2 separate regions of the Homo sapiens genome follow, and region 2 is linked to region 1. The links come from fine-mapping of genetic effects on gene expression. Tissue or cell type: whole blood. Region 1 holds a variant in brackets; the other region holds the start of a gene. All regions are shown on one strand. Distances are from middle to middle.

Region 1 (2,769 bases):
AAAAATGGTAATGTCAAAATGAACTGAATGTTGAAATTATCTGACAATATGTATCATAAAGATGCTTCAAAAAGTAATTTTGAATTTTCCTTAAATATGAAAAACAAATTAAAATCTCATTAGAAAATATAAATGATTAAAAAATGAATGAAAATTCTAGAACTAAAATATACAATGACAGAAATTAAAACCCACTGGACATGCTCCACAGTTGAGTGCAGCTAAAAAAGAAGAGACTGCATGGACTCGAGATGAAAAAAATAAAACTTATCCAATCTAAATAACATAGAGAAATAAACTTTTTAAAAAATGAGACTCAGGAAAGAGACCTCTGGGAAAACAATACAAGAGCTAATAATCTTATTACCTGATCTTAGAGAAAAGGGAAAGAGAGAGTGGGGCTGAAAAAGTGTTCAAAGACATAACAGCTGAAAACTTCCCAAGTTTGGCAAAAAAAAACCATAAACCTAAAAATCCAAGAGCTAAATAAATCCCAAATAGGATAAAACCAAAGAAAGCCACACCAAGATACATCATAATTAAATTTCTAGAAACTAATAAGTCAACAAAAAAAATTCTTTAAAGCCGTCACAAAGAGAGAAGGAAGAAAATACCAACTAGAATAGTAATGGATTTCTAATTTGAAACCATGGAAGCCAAAAGGAAGTAGCACATTTTTCAAGTGCTGAGCTTTTCTTTAATTGTCAACCATGAATTCTATATTCAGTGAAAATATCTTTCAAGAATCAAGGTGAAATAAAGATCGTATCAGTTGAAAAAAATAAGCAAATTTTTCATTAGCAAACCTACTCTTAAAGAATAGCAAAAAGAAGTTACATAAGCACAAAGGAAATCATAACAGGAAAAGGCTTAGAACTTACAAAAGGAAAGATGAACATCAAGATACGTTAAAAATAGAAGTAAATATAATAGACTATTGTTCATCTCATGAGTTTCCTAAGTCATATTTGGTGACTTAACTAAGAATTAGAACACCATCTGATGTGGTGTGTATAGGAAACACTTAAGACAATAATATTTTAAAGGTAAACAGGGTAAAAGTAAATTGAAGTAAGCTTTCTACACTTCACCCAAGGTAGTAAATAACAATATCAGTAGACTGTGATAAGTCATATATATGTATTATAACACCTAGAAGAACCACTAAGAAAACTAAATGAATGTATATACTTAAAAATACTATAAATAAATCATAATAGAATCAAAAAAA[AT/T]GCTCAAGTAACTCATGGAAAGCAAGAAAAGAGAAACAGAGGAAACATAAAACAAATGATAATGTCAGACTTACACCCAAATATATTAGTAATTACCTTAAATGCAATGGTTCCCAAACACCAATTAAAAGGCAGAGATAGGCAGTGCAGCTTAAAAAATATGACCTAACAATATACACTCTACACAAAACTCACTTTACACAATGAGATAGGTTGGAAATAAAATAACGGGAAAGATATATTATGTAAACATTAATCAAAAGAAAAAGAGAAGGAGTGACTATGTTGAGATCAGATAAAATAGATTTCACAGCAACTACATTTACTAGTGACAAAGAGGAACACTACATATATGCAAAGGATTAATCTACCAGGAAAATATAATCATCCCAAATGATAAAAGGCTCAATCCACCAGAAATATGTGACCATGCCAAATGTGTACACACATTTGACGTGTACCTCAGAGCTTCAAAATACATGAAGAAAAAACTGATGAAACTGAAAAAAGAAACAAAGCCACAATTTGGAGACTTTACTACTCGCCTCTCAGCAAACGAAATGTGTCAGTGATGATCTTCAGTGAAGGTTCAGTAATCTTCAATGATCAGTGAAGATATGGAAGAACAAAACCACACAATCAACCAACAGGATCTAATTGACATATAATGTACATTTCTAACAACAAGAGTAGAATACTTTTTTTTAATCACCCATGGAAGCTTCAAGATAAACAATATCCTGACCATAAAATGAACTTCAACCAATTTAAAATAATTGAAATAATGCAGAGTATGGTCACTGACCGTGATGAACCAAACCAGAAATCAGTAACAGAAAGACCACAGGAAAATCTCAAAAACTTAGAATTTAAACAACATGTTTTGAAATAATCCCTGGGTCAAAGATGAAGTCTCAAGAGAAATTATAAAAAATGTCAGAGGCCAGTCTTATTTTTATTCCTTTGAAACTAATGTGCTTTGACTCATAGCTTTGTAAAAACTTTTTTCTTTATCCTTGAACTTTAGAAAATTCATCAAATTTGTGCATCAATCATTGCTACTGCCATAATACCTAATTCATAAATTTTGATAGAATCATGACAAACTCTTCCAATCTATTGGTACAGAATTATTTTGTTGTTTTGTTTTGTGTTCGATTCATTTTCTTCTTACATCATTCCTTCTTACTTTCTTATTCATCTGCTTTTTTTCTATACCCGATTCCTCTAGCTTTTCCCCTCTGATCAGTTTTACTGTGTCACCTTTTCCCTGTGTGTTCTTAGAGAATACTGCATGTTTGTTCTTTAAGTCAATAATTCTAAGTGAAGGAGAGAGGTTTGTAATCAATCAATAATGTTATTCACTGCATCCAATGAAAATTCATATTTCTATCTTCATCTTAGCTAGCTCCGTTTTTGTAACACACTGCAGCTCAGCCTGGCATTTTCTTCTTATCTTTTATCCTCTCTTTCATAGGGTTCACACATTTTCCTCTATTTATGCAGATATAAACACATCATGAGATGCTCCCCATGA
Region 2 (2,769 bases), 320 kb after region 1:
TAGATATGCATAAAGCAGAAAGAGCAGTGCCTGGGAACCAACTTCCACCCATAACACTCTTTCATGGGAAAATAGGCTAATTCCCTAAAACAAACTTACATGTCAATGAAATACACTGTTTATAAATGTAAAACTACCTACACAGACACGAACACACTAACAATCAATGAAGACTGTCTCACTCCTTTATTCCTGAACTTAAAACTTTTTTTTTTTTTTTTTTTTTTTTTTTTTTTTTTTTTTGAGACGGAGTCTCGCTCTGTCGCCCAGGCTGGAGTGCAGTGGCGCGATCTCGGCTCACTGCAAGCTCCGCCTCCCGGGTTCACGCCATTCTCCTGCCTCAGCCTCCCGCGTAGCTGGGACTACAGACGTCCGCCACCACACCCGGCTAATTTTTTTGTGTTTTTTTAGTAGAGACGGGGTTTCACTGTGTTAGCCAGGATGGTCTCGATCTCCTGACCTCGTGATCCGCCCGCCTCGGCCTCCCAAAGTGCTGGGATTACAGGCGTGAGCCACCGCGCCCGGCCAACTTAAAACTTTTGTACAAACTTTCAACTGAAATTATTTTGATCCTAAAGATCACATAAAAAAGAAAACATCTCCTTTAACTTGTATTTTATTTCAAGACAGAGAGATAGAATATTCTGGCTCGGAGGATTCAGCAAAATGTAATTCAATGTCAATTACTGAATCTCTTCAAACCAAAGCATTTGTCAGCAGAAAATTCCCATAGGTTAACTGTAGACCTTAAAATCAGAAACGATGCAGGTAAATTACTGCACATCTACTTCTCCTGAAAATGACATTTATAGGTATTAATGTTTATATAGTGGCATCAGGAATAAAGTTAGTCATAATAACAAGCAATTGATTTCTATTTCACAAAAACGTACACTTACAGGATATTTGCATAAGTATTCACACAAGTTTCATTTGAACAATTCCAATCTCCTTAGGAAAACCTTGCTAATGTAATTTGAATACAGTTCTAAATAGATGTGAATTAACACTAAAGATGGTGACCCTACAGAATAACAGAGTGGATGTGTCATACCCTGCTCTGGTGAGGCACACTGTGCAGTCTTGTGCTTCGGAGTCAGTACCTGTAGCATTCTGCTTATGCATTAAATGCAGCAAATGCTTTGTTCCTTAAACCTGAGAATTCACTGTTCAGTTTTTACAACGAATGCTTAGAACACAAATTATAGTTCAATTCCACCTGCTTTTTTGTTTGTTTGTTTTTAGAATTTTTCTAAATTTGCCCTTTTCTGATAAATTCTTCAGCCTTGATTTCATCCTGGTCATTAAAGTGTTCAGCTACTTTGGCCCTTGGGACGGGTTTTGATTTAAAATAATCCAACCTCCCCAAATTCCCTGCAGCATGAGTGTTTTTACCTGCCAGGAGGCAGAGGCAGGCAGGAAAGAATAGACCCTGATCTTGCTCCAGACCTCACTGGAACCCTATGGAAAACCAAGGCAAGCACTCACCGGGTTCCTGAGTCTGCAGAGCCAATTCTTCCACAGCAGGGCTTTGAACTGGCACCCGGCATGCCCCATGCCTGCTGCTCCCTGCTCTCAGTCAGGAAGCCAGCCTGTAAGGATGGTGCTTATATCTGCTGGGCTCAAGTGAAGGCATGTTGCCTATTAGTCAATTCTAACAAAAGTGAGTGATGCAAGAGAGATTACTGGTGACTGAATAAAACAGGCATCAGATGTCCCCTCTTGTTCGGCATCTGCTGAGAAATCTTTTCACTAGCTGTTCAGTGTTTCAGGAGGGTTGAATTACAGAAAGCTGCCTTCAGGGACTTTCTCGGGCATACACACATACACAGAGAGGGTGCCCTCCCTTTCCGAGAACCCACAGAACTGATCTGTGCGACAAGAAGTAATGCCCACATTTACCATTTACCTCCCTTTTTTTCTGGATATTAATTAGATGGAATTTTCCTTTTTTCTTCTGAAGCATTGGTTATTACACAAATTTGCCAAAATATTTCAATTTTGGTGGTCCCATGGCAGAGAGTTTGAAGGGAAGGAGATGGAAGCAGTGTTGGTGTCTGGGGGAGTTTGGGGAATGGGTGACTCAAGTTCCACTCTGCTACTGCACCTGCACTTCATACTTCTCCTTCACCCATTTCCTCCAAAGGGATCAGGATCTACGTTTCAAATGGTATCGGGTGCAGATGTGGCAGGACTCAGCAAGTGGCCTGTGGATTACCTCTGAGTCCTGTTTGATTCCTGAACACTTGCACTTTCTAAGTGGCATGATGGATTCAGCTTGCCAGCTGGTGGCTCCATCGTCTTGGAAGCCAGGCCCTCTTGAGTTCCTGTTGCCCCCAGTTGTGGTCAGAAGGATTTCAGGCAACCCAGTCTTGTGGTCTTCTATTTCATAAAGCAATTTTCACAAGCTGTGAATGCTTGATAAATGGCTTTTGCAATAGGAAACAGGGAACACAGGCTTCAGCAAAGAAACTGACTCAATTATTTTGTAAACTTATTTGTTTAGAGCATGCCTATTTTATTTTATTTTTTGTTACATGGCTGGCAGCACTAGAGTGAAGGCCATTACTTAGCAGGATGGCGCCCAGCAACCATAAGTGGATTTGCCTGATCCCCATATGATGTTCCCCCTTGACCTGTGACTTCTCAAAGGTCTTTGGGGTTGCCTAAGTATTGCTACTCTGGTTCTCTTTGCAGATAACATCTAGAACACCTTACAAGTAATTGTCATAATTTTTAAAAATCTAGTATAAGAAAAAGCCTCCAACC

Evidence for each region. PIP is the estimated chance that this variant, and not a neighbour inherited with it, causes the effect.
Region 2: ABCA13 starts here. The variant in region 1 is the best candidate, but not a certain one, in a credible set for the expression of ABCA13 in whole blood (TOPMed, PIP 0.67).

Annotation. Positions count from the first base shown.
Region 1 is chr7:48,494,659-48,497,427 of GRCh38, reverse strand. All of the region lies in intron 48 of ABCA13 (ATP binding cassette subfamily A member 13), which reads right to left. Among named protein-coding and RNA genes, the nearest start is that of LINC02838, 210 kb to the left of the region's middle. The variant AT/T (reference allele first, on the strand shown) is at 1,232.
Region 2 is chr7:48,170,272-48,173,040 of GRCh38, reverse strand. ABCA13 (ATP binding cassette subfamily A member 13) reads right to left here and starts at 1,583. Exons shown (of 62, transcript NM_152701.5): 1 at 1,489-1,583. The coding sequence starts at 1,557.